Homo sapiens: one gene and its partner. The protein of the gene in region 1 purifies or fractionates together with the protein of each later gene. This does not show direct contact. Each region holds a gene or a part of one and is shown on either strand. Other genes may lie near its edges.

Region 1 (4,776 bases):
TCGGCTCACTGCAACCTCTGCTTCCCGGGTTCAAGTAATTCTCCTGCCTCAGCCTCCTGAGTAGCTGGGATTACAGGCATCTGCCACCATGCCTGGCTAATTTTTGTATTTTTTAGTAGAGATTGAGTTTCACTGTGTCAGCCAGGCTGGTCTTGAACTCCTGACCTCATGATCCACCCACCTCTGTCTCCCAACGTGCTGGGATTACAGGCGTGAGCCACCATGCCTTGATGTCCCTTTTAAAAACTACTATGGGTTGAGAGTGGTGGCTCACGCCAGGAATCCCAGCACTTTGGGAGGCCGAGGCAGCGGGTCACTTGAGGTAGGGAGTTAAAGACCAGCCTGGACCAACATGAAGAAACCTCGTCTCTACTAAAAACACAAAATTAGCCAGGCATGGTGGTGCATGCCTGTACTCCCAACTACTCTGGAGAGTGAGGCAGTAGAATTGTTTGAAGCCAGGGAGCGGAGGTTGTGGTGAGCTGAGATCATGCCATCGCACGCTAGCCTGGGCAAAAAGAACAAAACTCCCTCTCAAAAAAAAGGGGGGGGCTATGTAGGCCAGACGCGGTGGGCCATCCCTGTAATCCCACCTGTAATCCCAGTAATTTGGGAGGCCAAGGCAGGAGGACCCTTTGACCCCAGGGTTTTGAGAACAGCCTGGGAAACATAGTGAAACCACGTTTCTACAAAAAAAAAAAATATATATATATATATATATGTAAACTAGCTGGGCTTGGTGGCTCATGCCTCTGGTCCCAGCTACTCAGAAGGCTGAGGTAGGAGGATCACTTGAGTCCAAGAGGTAGAGGCTACAGTTAGAGGATCACGCCACTGCACTCCAGCCTGTGTGATACAGCCAGACCCTGACTCAAAATATCATTTAATTAATTAAATTAAAAGTATTATGTAATAACAGACAGCGACTTTTTTCCCACTTCTCTACCCCACATCCTCCCAATCCTAGGAAAAGGGAAGACAGTGATTCACAACTGAATAAGTCACTTCCCTCTGGTTGAATAGGGATTCCAAGTGGAACATAACCTCTGATGCCAAGATTTATAGAATGTACATGTTTTATAGACACCAATTTTAAAATTCTCAATCTGTATAATTTAAACAAGTTTTTAGTTATTAGATTATATACAGGGAAGTCAACATGTCACAACTAATCATATCCAATGAACTCATCCACTGATCTAAACCCAGTCTCTCGCCCCATTTTTTCTTTTGAGACAAGATCTCGCTCTGTTGACCAGGCTGCAGTGTAGTGGCATGATCTCAGTTCACTGCAGCCTGGACCTCCTGAGCTCAAGTCATCCTCCTACCTCCACCTCCAGAGCAGCTGGGAGTACAGGTGCACACGATTATGCCCCGTTATTTCCTTTTTTTTTTTTTTGGCAGAGATAGGGGTCTCACTATGTTGCCCAGGCTGGTCTCGAACTCCTAGACTCAAGCAATTCTCTTGCTTCAGTCTCCTAAAGTGTGGAGACTACAGGCGTGAGCCACTGTGCCTAGCCCCCCTTTCTTCATTACTGCGCTTCCCTCCCTAATTCTGTACATATCTCTCATTCTCCCCCTTCTCTCTCTAGCTCTTGTTTTCTTTTCTTTCTCCCTGGGATTCTGCTCTTCATTTTGTACCCCTCTTCTCTTCTGCTGTTTATCCCCCTTCTTCCCTCTATTCCTTCTCTTCCATCTCTTCTGCTCCATCCTCGCAACTTATTTAACCTCTTATTGCTCCTTCTCCCCAATCTTTCAATCGTCCTCAATCTCCATCTATTTCTGCCTCTTCACCCATCTCTGCGCCTCCTCTGCTCTCCCTGTTAAATTCTCTCTTCCCTGATATACTCCCCTGTCCCCACTCTGTGTCACCCCAGATCCCCAGGTGTCCTCCCTGCTGTGTTTCTCCCTCGGTTCTCCTTGACACCAGCACCACTCTGCTCTGTCTGCCCTGGCTCCAAATCCCTCCCTCTCTCCCTCACTCTGATGAGCCTCCCTCTTTGCTGCCACTCTCCCTACCTTGCCGTCCTTCATCTCTGTGTACATCTAGCTTTTCTCTACATTTCTCCAGTTGCTTTTCTCCACCTGCTTTTCTAGGTATTTTGTTGCTTTCTTTTTCCACTTTCACCATATCTTGGCATATCCCTCACCAATCCTCTATTTTGCCATCTGTTATGGGCCTTTCTTATTCTTTCTCTGTCTCAGGTTTTCTACTGCTGTCTGTCTCCTGATCCCTTCGGCCCACACAATCGCAGGAGGGTTTGGAGTAAGACGCCTGCATCCCGGAGGAGCGCGTTTTCCAAGGGCTGGAGCTCGGCAGGCAAGAAGACCCCATGTCACAGGACAGGGCCCTGCGTCCTTCCCAGTGTGGGTTCAATGGAAGCGGTGACTGCGGAGGAGAGACCTGGGGAGCCGCAGGCTCTGGCACGAGTAGGGAGGTGGGAGGAGGGGGGACGGCGCCTTGGGAGAAGGATGGGGTCTGCAAGATCCCAGGACCAGGCAGAGGACGCGGCCTCCCTGGGACTGGGGCTGCGGCGCGACGCTCCAGGGGCCGACGAGGGGTGGCTGGGAGGTGCGCCCCGGGCAAGAATCCACCTCGTGGGTGAAGACTTTAAATAGCGCGAGGAGGGAAGAGTCAGAAGAAGGTTTTGAGCAGAAAAACTACGCAATAGAAAGTGTATACATTGCCCTATAGCAGACAGACCCGGGACGGGACCAGCCTCCAGACGACTTTAAACCCGAAAGGAAGCGACACCCGGCCTCTCACTGGGCTGTCTCAATTTGCTCTGGGCGAAGGAAGACGGGCGAGAATTTCCAGGTCTGTGGGGACCCCACGTCCCAGGGACAGAAGCGGCGGGGACCTGGGAAGCGGAGACTTAATGCAACACAGAGCAAAACTCACCATGGCGACGTGACCTTCACTCCACCCGATCCGCTTCCGGGTTTGCGTTAATCTCCGCGCGCAGGACGGAAGCCAGGCCTGGGCGGGAGGTGGGAGGAGGTGGGCGGGGCCTGGGCGAGGTAGCGGCGGGGCGCGAGGCGCTGAGACCTTGCCCTTTAGAACCGGCAGAGGGCGGGGCCGGGGCGGGGCCGGGGCGGGACTTGCGCGTCTTTCAGCCTCTCTCCTAGCGTCTCTGTTTTTAGGTTGTGGAGGCGAGAGCGCCAGAAAGTCTGAGGCATGATTCCAAAGCCCTGGAATTGTCTGGAACCGGGATGCAAACTAGAATGTGAAATGCAAAGCCCTGCCTGGGCGGCATGTACGATGTCATGGTGACGGCCCACGGAACAGAATAGATGTCCTCTCCCTTTCTATCTCCATTCACTAGGGAGGGAGAGTCCACCCTGAGCTCAGCTTCAGAGACTTCCTTAAAGCCACCGCCAGGGGTGCGGGACGGAGTGCTTAGGCCAGGAAGGAGTGAGGTCACCACCTGCTGCTTAAACACAGCAGAGGCGCGGGGGCGGGAGCCTCAGGTCCCAGCTACTCAGGAAGCAACGGAGAGAATTGCTGAGCCTGGGGTCCCAAGCCAGCCTGGGCGACAAAGTAACACCCACTGCGGCAGGTCTCCCTTCCTAGTCTCTCTCTCTCTCTTTCCCTTTTTTTTTTTTTGGAGACAGAGTCTCACTCCGTCGCCCAGGCTGGAGTGCCGTGGAGTGATCCCAGCTCACTAGAACTTCCGCCTCCTGGTTTCAAGCGATACTCCGGCCTCAGCCTCCCGAGTAGCTGGGACTACAGGCATGCGCCACCATGCCCAGTTAATTTTGTATATTTAGTAGAGACAGGGTTTCACCATGTTAGCCAGGCTGAACTCCCGACCTCAGGTGATCCGCCCACGTCGGCCTCCCAAAGTGCTGGGATTACAGGCGTGAGCCACCGCGCCCGGGCCTTTTCCCTTTTTAAAAAAAAAAAAAAAACTTTTTTAAATAAAATTTTTGATGGTGTGACATAGGGATCCAACATTACTCTTTTCCATGTGGATATCCAGTTAGTTGTCCCAGCACATTTGTGGAAGAGATCTATTACTTTATTATTATTATTATTATTATTACTATTATTGAGACACAGTATTTCTGTTGCCCAGGCTGGAGTGCAGTGGCGAGATCTCAACTCAATGCAGCCTCTGCCTCCTGGGTTCAAGCGATTCTCCTGCCTCAGCCTCGGGAGCAGCTGGCATTACAGGCGCGTGCCACGATGCCCGGTTAATTTTTGTATTTTTCATAGAGACGGGGTATCACTACGGTGACCTGGCCGGTATCGAACTCCTCACTTTAAGTTATTTGCCTGTGTCAGCCTCCCAAAATGCTGGGATTACATGCGTCAGCCAACATGCCTGGCCCAAGAAATATTCTTTACTTTGCTTTTTAAATGTTGACAAAATATAATTGAAAACTAAAAAATATTATCCCAAATGAGAAATCATCTCCACGACGATAACAGAGAAAGAAATAAAAACCATTTTGTTAATAAATAAACCTTAGGACCGGGCATGGGGGCTCACGCTTGTAATCCCAGCACTTTGGGAGGCTGAAGCAGGCGGATCACGAGGTCAGGAGATCGAGGTCATCCTGGCTAACATGGTGAAACCCCGTCTCTACTAAAAATACAAAAAAATTAGCCAGGTGTGGTGGCGTGCACCTGTGTCCCAGCTGCTGGGGAGGCTGAGGCAGGAGAATGGCGTGAACCCAGGAGGCGGAGCTGGCAGTGAGCCAAGATAGCACCACTGCACTCCAGCCTGGGTGACAGAGCAAGACTCGGTCTCAAAAAAAACAAAAAAAAAA
Region 2 (5,000 bases), on another chromosome or scaffold:
TGCATGACTTCGCCTCCCACTGTCTCCTGAACCTGAACAGCTAGACCCAAGCTTTTGTTCTCTAATTCTTGACTGAGTAGAGTTTGATTCATGCCCACTAGTCTCCAATCCACATGACAGACCACCATGACCTTTCCTTTCCCAACTGTTTGATCCAGATCCAGATTCATACTCCTCCCCAGATTCCCTAGAAGGGCTAATGTGTGACTTGTTTATTCTTTCTCTCAGTTCTACAGAGCTGGAACCATGTCTGTCTTTGCCACCACTCCATGAATGACCACAGCTGGACCTGTGGTATCTTTTCTGAGATCCCTCTTGGTTCCCAGAGCTGGATAAATTACCTTGTCTTCCTAGCCTCCTGGAGTTGGACCCATGTCTACATTTCACAGTTCCCCTTGAGTGCCCAGAACTATATCCATGCTCCTCTCCCTCACTCCAACTTGAATGTCTGTAACCTGATTTATGTCCTGGTGTATCCTCTTCATCCTCTTCTGTTTCACTTTCTTCTTCTTGGTGTCGGTGACCACGCCTATGCTTCTTTGACCCTGAAGCTTTGCAGTATTCTTTGCTGAGGACCTTGTTGCAGGCCATAGTCAGCTTGAATATCATCAAAAGAAACTCAGTAAAGTCCAATCTTCTGTCATGATCTCGATCCAGCATATGCATGATGACATCCACTGTGTCTGGATCATCTGGGTTCTGTATATGAGTGACACACCAAGGGAGACCTGGTCAGCCTAACCTGCATACTCAACTAACACATTTAAATAGCGCTGTGAAATTATGGATGTTTGACATGATGTAGTTTTAGTCCAATAAAGGATTACTTTAGGTTAATAGAACCCAGTAAATGTTAAGGGTTAATAGAAAATAAAGACTACTGGGATCCTCAGAAGAAGACATTTCAAGGATTTAGGCTAAAGGATTAAGTGCTTAGGTAAGGCCTACAGGAAGGAGTGGAATAAACTAAGTTCAGTAACTGGTATTTCTAAGTTTTACATAAATTGTAACTATTACATGTTAATATCTTCCATGTTGGAATTTATCATCTATTATTTTGAAGTTAATAACTGAGTCTTTTTTTTTTTTTTGAGATGGAGTCTTGCTCTGTAGCCCAGGCTGGAGTGCAGTGGTGCGATCTCTGCTCACTGCAAGCTCTGCCTCCCAGGTTCACGCCATTCTCCTGCCTCAGCCTCCCGAGTAGCTGGGACTACAGGGGCATGCAACCACGCCCGGCTAATTTTTTGTATTTTTAGTAGAGATGGGGTTTCACCGTATTAGCCAGGATGGTCTTGATCTCCTTACCTTGTGATTCACCCACTTCGGCCTCCCAAAGTGCTGGGATTACAGGCATGAGCCACCGCGCCTAGCTGAGTCCTTTTTAAGTAGATGGAATAAAATGCTGGCATTTTATTTTTGATTCTTAATCATGGCTATTTTGTCAACTCCCTATGTAGATGATTTCCCTTTCTATACTTTTTTTTCCATTTGATAGGATAATTTATTAATTCGTGTCCTAGTATAATTTTATTTTCTGCTTTTTCTAAGGAAAAGCCTGGGTGTATGAGAAAGTCTGAGAGTCTATGAGGTAGGAGTGCATAGGTGGAAAAGTGAGGACGAAACATTCACTTTCTTTAAAATATCTGCTGCTTTAACAGACTTTCTGGCATCCCCAAAATACCACTCATAGAGTTTGCTTAGAGTTCACTGGGGCTGTGCACTTTTTAGCTGATCTGGGTCATACAACAGAGCTTGTACAGGACTCCAGCAGCCTTCAGTTCTGGCACATGGCTCTCACCTTCAGAACTGGATGAAGCTCTTTCTCCAGAAGTTCCTTTAGTTCACCCTTGCTCAGTGTGCCACACTCCCCATCTTGCTTGGTGTATTTGTAGAAAACATCAATTACGGTGACAACACTTCTCAAGAGGTCGGTCATCTTTTTGCAAGTTTAAGTGAACCTGGACACAGAAAAACAAAGAACCCTATTATTCATATTCTCTCCTTTTATCAGCAATTTTCATTTTAATAATAACCAGCATGATTTTTTTAACCTCTTGTTTTTTAAATCTCAAAACGTAAGAATGGGCCAGGGATGATACAACCCCGTTTAACACAATGAAAATTAACTTTGTTAACTTTGAGTTACTTTTCTGTGATCAAGTCTTGGCATGTTACTGGTTCAACTGAGAATAGACCTCAAGTCTCTATATTTCCTGTCATGGGTAAGTATAGTCTCTACATAGTATCTCTACACTTTGAGTGTGTTGGCATTCTGGGTGTTGTTCTAAGGCTTCCAAAATTTCCAGAACCAGCCAGACACCATTGCCTCAATCTCTCTTTCTAGTTTCACTGCTTTTCTTGAGTCAAAAGTGACAGACCTTCCACCATGCACATCTGTTTATCCTCTGGGCACCAGAAGCTAAACTGGACCCTTAAGGCCTTCAGCAAATTAAAAATGGGCAAAGGGGCTCAAAATAGCTTGGTGTTTCATAGGCATGAGACAGTAGAACTCAGTAGAGCTTAGGAACTCTCTTAATGTCAAGCACTTGACCAAACACTGTTTTCTTTAATTAATCAAGAAGAAGAGCTCAGCAATGCAGGCAGCAGTTTAACTAGTGGATAATTAGATCTTGGAGCTCTGGGAACCAACACTGAATAAGGAAGGGACTCTGCAACAGACCCAGCTGCCTCCCAGTTTGAGCTGGACAGCCCAGAAAAGAGGGCATGGAAAAAGACTCGGAACAGACTGTGGAATGGCCTAGAGGAAGGTGAACTTTTACTTGCATTATTCTTCTCCATAAAAATGAACTTAACTACAAAAAGGCCCCAGAATAAACTAAACTAACCAAACAAATAAGCAAACAAAAAGAAAAGAAAATGAAAGAAAGAAACAAAAAAGAAAAGAAAGGCAAAATATACATGAACTCTGCCTTAGCTTATATCCCTAGACTTCTACTATGGACAACACCAAATATTCATAAATGTAGCTGGATGAATTTTCTCTCACCTGGTTCACCAAAGGAACAAGTAGGATAAAGCCTGATGCAGCTTGCAGGGTGACGATGGATTGGGATAATGACCCTTATATAGCTTATAGTGATTATAGTGAATGAGGTGATTCATTTTCCATCAAACCTAACTCCACCTCTACATATTTACCTTCCTCCTTCACATTGTTATCTACAGATGATTGCAGAAAGGCTAGTACCAGCCCCACCTTCCAGTACGAGGACATGGTTGCAAGATACCTTTTTTTTCAGGGTCATATACATGTGAAAAGCACAGACTTTGTTTTAGAGGACTCATGTTATACATTTCTTTTAACTAGTACCCACAGAAAGTAGCAGAGTGTAAGATACTTGGAAGGTGCACAATAAATGCTTATTTAATTGAAAATGAACCTGAGCCACTAGGTTCATCTAATTCATGTCTTTTTTGTAATAATAAAAAGTGACATTTATTGAGAATTTACTATGTGCTAAATACTTTAAACAAACCATCTCAATCTTTAAAAAATCTGCACTTTTAGTTATGGGTACATAGTTGTATATAATTGTTGGGTACATGTGATGTTTTGATATGGGCATACCATGTGTAATGATCAAATTACAGTAATTGGGGTATCCAGCACCTCAAGCATTTCTTTGTAGTAGGAACATTCTAATTCTACTATTTTAGTTATTTAAAAATATACAATAAATAGTTAACTATAGTTACCATATTATGTTACCAAATACTAGATCTTATCACCTCATTTAATCTTCACAACCTTCATACGAGATATGTATTTATTATCCCATTTTATAGAGACAGGTTCTGGAAGCATAAGGATCTTCTCCAAGGTCATAGCTAGTAGGCAGAGAAACCAGAAGTTGAACCTGTATCTACCTTATTGCAATTGCTGTTTACCATTATACTAACTTACCTCTGTGTATTTATCATATATAACTATCATGCAAAAATTATGCACCATTTTAGGAGTGTAAGGCCCACTCAAACGCAAATAATATAAAAAAGTAACATACAGAGTGCTGTTAGGAAGAGAGGAAACATTCTCTGACCTTGTGAAGGCTCATTTCTAGGCTAGAAAAGTGTAATTGGCTATATATAAAAATAATGTTTTCAGATATGTTCAGGGTGAATTTAGAGTGAGCTTTCTTCCAGCACTCTGCGATCCACTGGTAGTCTGGCATGTTTAGGGCCTGGACCCTTGGGAAAATGTTCACTTATGTACAGAAAGTATATCAAATACACTTGAGGGTAACAAAAATAATCAGAGAGCTGTAAGTCTTAAGCATGGAGAGCCAATTCTGCTGTACTTTGCTACCAGGTGATAATGATGATGATGAGGAGGATAGCAGCTACCATTAAGTGCTAAGTGCTTACTATCTTCTATACATGGTAGGTTTACATGCTTATCTATTTATTCCTCAAAATAACCCCATTTTATAGATAAGGTAATAAAAGCATAGAGCAATGTAAACATTTGTTACAAATCGCAGCTAGTTAGTAGCAGCACTAGAACAGATACACATGCTAGCCGATGCTAAAGCCTAGCACTTAACCATATATATTCTACATATATGGAGTCAATAAACTCCTATCTGGGCATTGCTTTGGGCCAGTCATCATATCTTATTCATTCCACCATCTAGGCAGCACCTAGAGCTTGGTAAACACTAAGAATGAGTGTCTGTTCATAAAATGTTAATGAATAGGCCCTTGAAATATGTCAATTGCTCACATAGCCAAGGAATCCTAGACCAAAACAACCACACAGAAAGTTATGGTTGCTGTTGGATACTATGGTCATTTTCAATCATATGCATCTTTTGGAAGTGCATTTTTGTTAAGATGGCTGCTGTGTCAGAAAGACTTTCAGGCCCCAGACTCCACACTGAGACAGAATTTTAAAGCATTTTTGCACTGTCACTCCAGCATTATAGTTGAGAACTCTGAAACTCCTCCATAGTTCAGAACTCCATTATTCAGTCTTTTGT

Evidence for each region. The genes of interacting proteins can lie anywhere in the genome.
Region 2: the proteins of ZNF808 (region 1) and FLG2 purify together in Homo sapiens (co-immunoprecipitation; one large-scale study listed by IntAct). This does not show direct contact.

The regions. Positions count from the first base shown.
Region 1 is NC_000019.10:52,525,838-52,530,613, reverse strand, and holds the start of ZNF808 (zinc finger protein 808), read right to left. Parts: upstream 2,947-4,776; 5' UTR 2,903-2,946; exon of another isoform or gene 2,705-2,902; intron 1-2,704.
Region 2 is NC_000001.11:152,356,949-152,361,948, forward strand, and holds the start of FLG2 (filaggrin-2), read right to left. Parts: upstream 3,059-5,000; 5' UTR 3,008-3,058; intron 1,959-3,007; 5' UTR 1,937-1,958; coding exon 1,799-1,936; intron 700-1,798; coding exon 1-699. UniProt on the Homo sapiens protein: Essential for normal cell-cell adhesion in the cornified cell layers. Important for proper integrity and mechanical strength of the stratum corneum of the epidermis.